Linked DNA regions of Homo sapiens: region 2 is linked to region 1. Evidence: fine-mapped expression QTL. A gene starts in region 1. The other region holds a variant in brackets. All regions are shown on one strand. Distances are between the middles of the regions. Region 1 holds the start of ZDBF2 (zinc finger DBF-type containing 2). Region 2 has its middle 70 kb from the start of ZDBF2.

What was found. PIP is the estimated chance that this variant, and not a neighbour inherited with it, causes the effect.
Region 2: its variant is the best candidate, but not a certain one, in a credible set for the expression of ZDBF2 in tibial nerve (GTEx, PIP 0.90).

Annotation. Positions count from the first base shown.
Region 1 is chr2:206,272,147-206,277,376 of GRCh38, reverse strand. It overlaps ZDBF2 (zinc finger DBF-type containing 2), which reads right to left and starts at 2,714. Exons shown (of 5, transcript NM_020923.3): 1 at 2,431-2,714. RefSeq lists an enhancer at 1,857-2,356 and silencers at 2,020-2,479, 2,760-2,819.
Region 2 is chr2:206,341,729-206,347,222 of GRCh38, reverse strand. No RefSeq gene overlaps it. Among named protein-coding and RNA genes, the nearest start is that of ZDBF2, 70 kb to the right of the region's middle. The variant A/T (reference allele first, on the strand shown) is at 3,384.

The DNA.
Region 1 (5,230 bases):
GACTTAGGCAGAAATGTCTTAAAATACAAATAAAACAGCATTTTGTTTTTGGTTTTTTTTTTTTTAAAGAAATATTTCTTGCACACCTGAGATCTGCACCAGCTGCAGAGGTAAACATGGATAAAAATATTTCTGAAATGAGTCTGGAGTTGTCGTGTGTGTATTTCTCAAACTGAGTGTGGCGTGGCAGTGTGGTAAGAACTAACAAAACCCACAATCCTCATAAAACATATTTTTCAACTGCCTGACAAAAGAGACATCAACTTAATTTGAAAAATAATAATAATAAGGAAAGACAATAGAAAGGCATTTGGTTTTCTGAATAAGACAATCTAAATTTTCCGTCCAGCAGTAGGGAAACAATTGAGGAGCAATGACAAAACAATGGCCGAATGCATAAAAAGACCACACTAATTCAGTGTCAGTTCCTCCACACAACACTACTAATTTTCAATTTTCCCCTTTTCTGGATTATCCACGCTATGCTGGCTTTCCTCTGGTGACAAGCATTATCCTAGACACCTCTATTCAGTCTTAATAAAATAATAATAGCTAATACTTAGTACTTAATCTGAGCCAGGCGCTCTGTCAACAGCTTCCTGTGCATTATCTCATCTAAATAACAAACAGCTTTATAAGGTAGCTGCCATGATTAATTCCCATTTAACAAATCAGGGAACTGAGGTTGAGAGAAAAGAGGTATCTTGTTGCAGGTCTCACACCAATAACCAGCGTAACTGAGATGTGATCACTGGTCAATTTGAGTAGTTTATGCTTTAACCTCTTAACGACTTAGACACTTCCTCTCTGTATTTTTAGGAATACTACTTGTTTTAATATTAGGTGAAAACAAATAATTAGGACTCTTATTTGCTGCAATCAACATCACCACTATTCCAAAGAAAAAATAAAACTAATGTCTAGTTTAATTGCATCTTGCTCATTTGAGTGCTGACAGTACCTTGGATTAGCGACTCTCAAGATTATTTAACATGACACACAGGAACCAATAAATTTTTAATTACAACCGAGCACACACGCACAGGCACATACGCACACTTAAAAGATTTTTCACAAAACAATACTCTCATTACATGTAATGCAGTCTGATATTTTCTATGCGATCTTACTTTTTTTAATGCTAGTCACGACCCACTAAATTTCACAATGCACACGCGCACAGTTAAAATATTTTTCACAAAACAATACTCTCATTACATATAATGCATTCTGATTTTTTTATGCGATCTTATTTTTTTTTAAATGCTAGTCATGACTAAATTAATTTCACCATTCACGAACCGGCTGAAAAAACTCAGTTTGAAAAAACACTGCCTCCAATTATTATGCAGAGTAAACCATATTTTATAGAAACCAGTTCTTACCCTGAATTCAGCTTATTTCTATCCAAATCACTGGCCACTGCAGTGATACTTTATCAACTCTCTAACGAGTTGCTTTCTTGCCTTCTAGGCTTTAGGTTCAAACGATAGAGAAAAGGTCTTCCACGTATTAAGTGAAAAAAGCAAATAAACACCCCTTATGTAACACACGTATATATGTTTGTGTATTAATTAAAAAGGAAGGAAAGATACCCCCCAAATTGTTAGCAGATTCTCTCGAGGATGAGATCGCTACAGGCTGCCTCCATCGTCCCTCCCCCTCCCCACACGTAGCATATTGCTGTAAAAAAGAAAAACAAAAACAAGCTATTTCCTTTAGGTGGGGGTGGGGTTTTGGTCCCTTGAGAACCAGTATCTTGTTATGCATTTTTTTCACGAGCTACCAAGAATCATCGCGTGAGATAATCGCAGGAGCTGGTAAGGCCCTTCTTAGGAGCAAGTAAAAACGATGGCGTAACACGACCACATTTACACAACTGTTGCACGGCGGTAGTAAAAGAATCATTAACACAAAAATCAAACGTTTTCAAATAAACTATAATCGCCCGAGGCTGGGAAAGGCCTAGGTCTGGGGCCAGCTGGACCCAACGCAGGGCACTGGGGGAAGGGGGTGTGTGGACAGGTGGCTCGGGATCTCGGCCCCACAGGTGCCCAGGGGCAAGACTCCGCGGGTTCCCGGCCCTCAATCCGACCCCGCAGACCGCCCCCTCCCCAAGCCCGGACCCGAGGCCTCGTCCGCCGGCCCCTCTGACCCAGGGCCCCGGACAGAAGCGCAATGCAGCCTGCGCCCCACCTCCTTCCCTCGCCCCGCCACCTCGATCCCGGCCCGGAGCCGCCGACACCTCTCACGCAGCAGGGGCAGAAAGGGACGCGGGGTGGGGGGAAGCCGAGGACCTGCGAGGCGGCCGCGGGAGCCCAGCGAGCGGTCCTGGCGTCCCTCGGGAAGAAGGCGCCCCGGGCGCCCGGCGAGCAGGCCCCGCCCGCGGGCGTCGCCCCGGCCGCGCCCCGCCCCCGCCGCGGCACTCACCTCCGCGGAGGCTGCCCGGATTCCTTCCGGGCCGCGGTGGAGACCGAGGACCGAGCCGGGCGCTCTCCCTTCTTATTCCGGTTCCGCGGCGGCGCCCGAATCCCAGACCGTCCGAGCGCCACGGCCCCGCTGCCCGCGGAGCCAGAAATAGGCGACTTCGGCCCCTGCGGTCCGGAGGCGAGAAGCGGCGCGGGAGCGCGTCTCTCAGGACGCGGGCCCCGAGTCGCGACTCCACTCACGCAGGCATCCAAGGCAACGTGGCGTTGCAACCCTGATGGAGGTTTGACGTCAGGGAAGGTGCGAAAACCAGACCCCTTCTGACGCAGGAGCGGCGGGACCGCCCCCTGCCCGCCCACCCACTCACTCACTCTCCCACCCGGGCGGAGGAGCCCCTTCCTCCCCTCCAGAAGCTCTTAAAGCGGACACTTCCTCCCTGGTCAGGGCCCCACTCCGGAGCTTGGGAAATCTATCGCGTTCCAACAAAAATGACTAGACTCATAAGCACAGTTGGGACGCGAAGTAGAGACCAAGGTTTTAGCGTTTGAGGGTCCAAATAAAAACTGCTTGCCAATTCAAAGCAACGTATGAATGTAGAAAAGAAAACGGGGCTAAGAGAGCTAGTCGTTTCCGTTTCCATGCCTATTTCATAGTGAGGTGCATCTCACAAAAGCTGCTGTTCAATGAGCGCTTGCTCTGTGCTAGGCACCGTTTAAGGTTTCTATACATTATTGCATTTCATTTCAGAGTAACTCTGAATGAATCCTATTATTGTCCCCCTTTGACAAATTGAGAAAACTGAGGCTTAAGGAAGTTAGGTATTCAAAGATCTATCCTGCACATTAAAGGGTTACAAATATTAACAAACAACATTAGGTCATGCAATTATATTCACTGCGCTACCCCATTACGAATATAGTTGTGAGCAAAAACAGTTTAAGTGTAACGGAGATCACAAACCTAAATGAATCACACTACTGAATATGAAATTATAATCTGCGATAAGAAGGTTCTGAAACACCTAAACCAATTTTACTAAAATGGAGAGAGGCCCTGTTGCAAAGCTTATGTCTAATGTAAAAATAATCTTAAAATGAGCTACTTTGCTCTTTGGCTGTAGCTGTAATTGTCGTTACCCTTTTTAGTAAGCTTGTGATTTTGTCCCTTTAAAGAACAACAACAAAAAAACTTGCCTATTGCTTTTGCGTCCATTGTTTTTATTCTTTCTGTATTTCTCAGCTCCTTCTTCCCCCACTACATCTTTCTCTCACTTTAAAGTTGGGCTCCTGCAACTGTTCGATTTATAACCTCCCTTAGATTTAACATACCAAAAAGTACGGATTTCTTTTAAGGCAAGTTTTTTCCACATCCCAACTTTGGAATTATAGAAAATCCACTATACATTGATCGAAGCACCATGACATTATGTATTTCACAGATGCTAAGCCATGTTTTTCCCCACATTTTAACATCTGTGAAATCAAGATGCATCTTATAAACTCTCGTTGACCGGGTGGCAGTACAGACCTGGTTGTCATTACCTCCACGTATTACAACGTGGATGTTGCTGTGCAGGTTGTCCTCATTTCAACTGAGATAAGTGCATTGTTTAATAAAACCCATAACCCTAGGAGGAAGGGAATTAACAGACAAAAGTCACTCAAACTTGGAGAGAGATTTTCCTAGGGAAAGAGGGAAGATTTGCCTGGAGAAGATTTTCCTAGGACCAAAAAGAGATTTCCCCAGCATTTAGAAAAGAAAGAGATGGGACTGGCTAAGAACTAGTAGTCTTCTGGGAGCCCTGAGTTACTTACCAAGTACATTCATTCTTGATGGATTTTGGGAACCCATATATGAACAGTTAAATACTAAGCCTACTTGCACCCCCCAAAAATGAAATAACTTCGATATTATTCTTGATAGCCTGATTAGTCAGTTACAACCCCTACAGCTTTTATTCAATAACACCATTGAAGGAGGAAAACAAGTCCTGAATGTTTTGCGTGAAAACACAAAATTGACATATTCAGGTGAGATCAAGAAGGTGCCAGCATCAAAACTTGCAGAATAAGATCAGCTGCTTGGAAGAAAATCCTGCATACAATAGTGCAGCATTCTTCCTTCCTTTCTCTCCCTCTCTGTTTTTTGTTTTTGTTTTTGTTTTTGTTTTGAGACAGGGTCTCCTTCTGTCACCCAGGCTGGAGTTCAGTGGCGCAAACACGGCTCACTGCAGCCTTGACCTCCCAAGCTCAAGCGATCTTCTTGCCTTAGTCTCCAAAGTGGCTGGGACCACAGGCGTGTGCCACCATGCCTGGCTAATTTTTTTACTTTTTGTAGAGATGGGGGTTCTCACTTTTTTGCCCAGGCTGGTCTCGAACTCCTGGCTTCAAGGGATCCTCCCACATTCACCTCCCAAAGTGCTGAGATTACAGATATGAGCTGTAACTGTGCCCAGCTGGAGCATTCTTAAAGTTAGATGCATCACCAACACTTTTGGTGGAAAGCTACAGCCATGGACAACTGATTCAAAAAGTGATTCATAAAAGTTGAGCTCTGGGCTTGGCGCGGTGGCTCACGCCTGTAATCCCAGCACTTTGGGAGCGCGAGGTGGGCGGATCACCTGAGGTCAGGAGTTTGAGACCAGCCTGGCCAACATGGCGAAACTCCATCTCTACTAAAAAAAAACACAAAAATTAGCCAGGCATGGTGGTACATGCCTGTAATCCCAGCTACTGGGGAGGCTGAGGCAGGAGAATCACTTGAACTTGGGAGGCGGAGGTTGCAGTGAGCTGAGACCGTGCCA
Region 2 (5,494 bases), 70 kb before region 1:
GGACCCAGAAACAACACACTTGGCCAAACTTCTGGCAGGCCTCTTAGCACTGGACACCCAGGTCAACAAATGGCCCTATCTTCACACTTATTATAAATTATTGGGCCATAACCTAAAAATTGTCCCCTATAAAGTAAAAAAAAAAAACAAAAAAAAAAAACAAACTCTCAGAATTTCTTGCCTTGCACACACCCAAAATATAAATCAAAATCATATAGGTCTCCACATACACTAAGGCCACACTACAAGCACAGGCCAGAACACTCCTTATTCCCCTTCGAGTTACAGACATTACTGATAATACCAAGACACACACTTCACTCTTTAAAATACACACTGCTGGGCTCTTGAAAAAGAAATTCACTAGAACTTTCATGTCCCTGATAGGTGTCTGATAACCAGTTTAACTGAAAGACATAATGACCTCAAACAACTCCTTTCAAATTCCAGTTCAACAAATAAACCCCCAAATAAATTTCCAATTTTCCCTAGATCTTAGCTTATCTTTATAAATTTTCTTTTTTTCTTTTTTTTTTGTTGAGATGGAGACTTGCTCTGTCACCCAGGCTGGAGTGCAGTGGTGTGTTCTCAACTCACTGCAGCCTCCACCTCCTGGGTTCAAGTGATTCTCCTGCCTCAGCCTCCTGAGTAGCTGAGATTACAGGCACGTGCCACCATGTCTAACTAATTTTTGTATTTTTAGTAGAAATGGGGTTTCGCCATGTTGGCCAGGCTGGTCTCAAACTCCTGACCTCAGGCGATCTGCCTGCCTCAGCCTCTCAAAGTGGTGGGATCACAGGCGTGAGCCACTGCTCCTGGCCTTATCTTTACAAATTTTCAATCTCACCCCCATCCTCTAAGGGCTGGAGGCCAGCAGTAGGGCACTCTTGTCCTGGAACTCATTCACTATAGATTATCCTGCAGGCCAGGCCGCTGCTTATCAGATATGGGGCCTGTTCAAACTTAAACTTCCACCCAAAACAAAAATTCCTTTCAGGCGCAGATATACACCATTCTACTAAATGGTGGTCTTATTACTATTGGTTTTGGTGCTTTCATTGATTTATCCAGAGGCCCAAATCCTCTAGTAAGCTACTGTTCCAACCAAACATGGCAAATTCTGAAGCCCACATCAGTTCAAGCAGGTGTACAAAGTAGAGAGCAGAGAAGCTTTTTTTCCTGTAATGCACGATGGTGCTGCTCACACAGCAACTGAAAAAAGTTTATATGGAATCAGACTTGTCAGTAGCAGAAATTTTGAGACCAAAGTGAACTCTACTTAGGACTCCAGGAAGTAGAGAATATCATTTATTCACAATAGTACTTTATATTCAGTGGCCAGACTCATTTTTAACAGTGCTTTTCAGAATTAAGCGTTTCCTTGGGAATAAAAAGGGAGATTCACAGGCTTTGACAAGCAGCCTCCCACGGGCTTCTAATGTCTGATCAGAGATAAAAACTGTGAAGCATACTTTGTCATAAAATATCTGTCAGACTATGATTTTTATGAGATAATTTCAATGGGCCTTAAGATGTAGAACTAAGACATCTTTTTTTTTTTTTTTTTTTTTTTGAGATGCAGTCTCGCTCTGTCACCCAGGCTGGAGTGCAATGGTGTGATCTCAGCTCACTGCAACCTCTGCCTCCCAAGTTCAAGCAATTCTCCTGCCTCAGCCTCCCAAGTAGCTGGGACTACAGGTGCCTGTCACTACACTGGGCTAATTTTTGTATTTTTAGTAGAGACAGGGTTTCACCACGTTGGTCAGTCTGGGCTCAAACTTCCGACCTCAGGTGATCCACCTGCCTCAGCCTCCCAAAGTGCTAGGATTACAGGTGTGAGCCACCGCACCCAGCCCCCTGAATTCTTTCTTGTGTGAGACCCAAGAACCCTCTCGGGATCTGGATCAGGACCCCTTTCCAGTAACACTTGGACACGGACACAATGCAGCCCAGCCCTTTGCTAGGGCATAACACAGGTGACTTTACTCAATTCCCAATAACTCCACATTTCCCTCTGAGACCTTGTCAGCCTGGCCTTCACTGCTGATATTTCTATCAGCATGTTGGTCACAACCATCTCACAGTCTCTAAGAAGTTTCAAACTCTCTATCATCTTCCTATCTTCTTCTGAGCCCTCCAAACTCCTTCAATCTCTGCCCATTACCCAGTTCCAAAGCCACTTCCACATCTTCAGGCATCTTTATAGCAACACCCCACTCTTGGTATCAATTTTCTGTTTAGTCCATTTGGGGTTGCTATAAAGAAGTACCTGAGACTGGGTAATTTATAAAGAAAAGAGGTTTAATTGACTCACAGTTTTGTGGGCTGTACAAGAAGAATGACGCTGGCATCTGCTCAGCTTCTGGTGAGGTCCCAGGGAGCTTACAATTGTGGCAGAAGGCTAAGCAGGAGCAGACATGTCACGTGGCAAGAGAGGGAACAAGGGGATGGGGGAGGTGTCACACTCTCTTAAACAACCAGGTATCTCAAGAACTCACTCATTATCATGAGAATGTCACTAAGCCATTTATGAGGGATTCACCCCTGTGATTCAACACCTCCCACTAGGCCCCTTTTCCAACATTGGGGATTACATTTCAACATGAGATTTGAGGGGACAAACATCCGAGCCATGTCACCTGCTCCTGCCTGTAAGTAATGAGTAATAATGAGACATCCAAGGCCTTGGAATATAGTCCATTTCAGTCTGACCAGTAGTTCCTATTCTGGGGAGTGATAATGACCATGGTCACCCCTCTTACCCTACTAAGGTTGGCAATTTATGGTTCCCAGGGAGGACGTGGACTTTCTAGGACCCATCCAACATAGGGAGGGGAGTTTTGGCAGCACTCAACTAAGACGGCAGGCAGCAGCACACAGCAATAGGGGGTCTTCCCACATGGTGTCAGCCACACGGGAGAGCCAGTTAGTAAGCCAAGAGCAGGCTAAAGCTATGTTGCTGTGTCCCTCACAGTTGTGACCACACACCCTACTCACTGTACCAATAGTACTTTCCTCTCATTTGATCTTTTTGTGGGATTTGGTCCTGAAAAAGATCTTTCCCAGGAGAGTAGCTATAAAGTCTAGCCCTGCCCTGACAGGGCTCCAGGGAGGTGGTTGTGGATGTTTACAGTATGCTTCACAGAATACTTCTTTATCTATCCTGGCCTAATGCCTACATTTCCAACCTGTGACCAGGTGTACCTCTCACAGGAAGCTTGTTTACACTGGCAGATACCCTTGTGGCTTGTGTCTGACCTGTGTCCAGTTTATTCTTACCAAGAGAGCCACTCTCTAGGAGAGCTCCGACTATAAGGAGAGTTAGGTTCAGGTGTGTTGGTCAGGTGAGACATAGAGGAAGTGGGCACACCAAAACACATGAA[A/T]TAACCAAAGCATTTTATTACTCACAGATCCATGAGAGAAAAGCAGTGCCCATGAGGGCTGACAGAAAGTCCAGTAACAGTATGGGATTCAGCCAGCAGATGGAAGAAAGACAGAGAACCCCTTATCTGTACACATAAGGGGTTGTACATACCTGCATTATAGCAGGTATGTACTATATTTGCGGAAATGCAAAGACTCAGTAAATCCTACTTCAAGATTGGTGGGGACCATGACAGGGGCAGAGACAACTGCTGTTCTGTGGTAAGCAGGTCTATGCAAACCTACCCCCAAAGGCCAAGGGTGCTGAGAGGCCAAAGAAAGAAGCAGACAAATTTAGTTTCTCAGAAAGAAATATTTAATAGGGACTTACCAGTGGGAGCCATTTCTCTGGTGGCCACAAGATGGTGGATCCCCACACCCATCCTGCAGAAAGTATTCTTTATATAGCAAGCTTTTAGGGTAAAACATGTGCAGCTAGTTATGCCTCAGACTTCCTTGTGAAATTCGTGACCGCTGGGCAGGTTAGGCAAACATCCTTATGAGGGGTTATCCATGCTACAGGCATTGTTTAAAGAACACTTTGGTATGTGGGGTCAAACATCAATCATCACGGCGGTTTCACTTCAAGATGGCATCACTCTTGCCATACAACAGGCTGTTTTCCTACAGCCACTAATTGGTTAAATATATAAGGAGTTAGGGAAATTCTCAGGAAGGAGGTAAGGAAGGTTGGAATGGGTAAAGTGAGAATATCATCAAAAATAGTGAGTGTGGGTCATGCCCATAATTTCAGCTATTTAGGAGGCTGAGGCAGAAGGATTGCTTGAGGCCAGGAGTTCAAGACCAGCCTGAGCAACATAGCAAGGTCCTATCTCTAAAAAAAAAAAAAAAAAAAAAAAAAGTTTTTAATTAGCTAAGTGTGGTGGCTCACATTTAATTCCAGTTACTTGGGAGGCTGAGGCAGGAGGATTTCTTGAGCCCAGGAGTTTGAGGTTGCAACCTGGATGACAGAGTGAGACACTGTCTTTTAAAAATAAAGTGAGCAGTTTTACTATGGAGATGAATGACAGTAGGTACCTGGCAAAAGTATTAATATTCGCCTAGTCCTGGGGACCTTCAACAGGATGACTTAATTGAATGGGATGGCTATCATGGTGAGGAACGGCTGTCATGGTGAGGATTTCAAGTCTCATATCAAACTAGAATGGCAAAAATTGGAGGGCAAATGGATCTTTCAGTATCTCTTAAATTATACCACATACACAGATGGTAGATAAATAAAGGGAGGTTAATAAGGGAAATGCCTTTAGCCATATATATGGTAAACACTTACTAGGCATTCAAACATGAACAAACCTAGATCCCAGTTTTAAGAACCATATATTACATATCCATCCCTTTTCATTTTGTTTTATTCTCATATTAGAGTGTAGCTGCGGCTGGGCACTGTGGCTCATGCCTGTAATCCCAGCACTTTGGGAAGCCAAGGCGGGTGGATCATTTGAGGTCAGGAGTTTGAGACCAGCCTGACCAGCATGGTGAAATCCCATCTCTACTAAAAATACAAGAATTAGCTGGGCGGTAGTGGCATGCACCTGTAGTCCCAACTACTTGGGAGACTGAGGCAGGAGAATCATTTGAACCCAGGAGGCAGAGGTTGCAGTGAGCCGAGATCACGCCACTGCACTCCAGTCTGGGCAACAGAGTGAGACCCTGTCTCAACAACAACAACAACAAAAAGAGTGTAGCTGATAAATAGCTACTAAAATGCTCTCCAATGTGACCAAATTACTATACTCTATAGCAGGCCAGTCCCTTAGCTAAATTATAACTGACTCTTTCCTTTGAGCTCTGAATACGTGTGACCCAATCATGCTCTGAACAGTTTATATGCACAAGGATGATTACAATAATTGCATTTACTGTAAAACAGGTACACCCTGTCGAAACTTATTTAATTCCGAATTACATTCCAGCCATTTTGTGTGTCCCTTCCAAAATAGAAGAAATAACATTCCAACTCTCATTAGGTCAGCAATGAAGATATTGAATTAAATCAGAATAGTGAGCAAGACAGTTTCAAGGAGCTCTCATTTAAAAAGGAAATTAG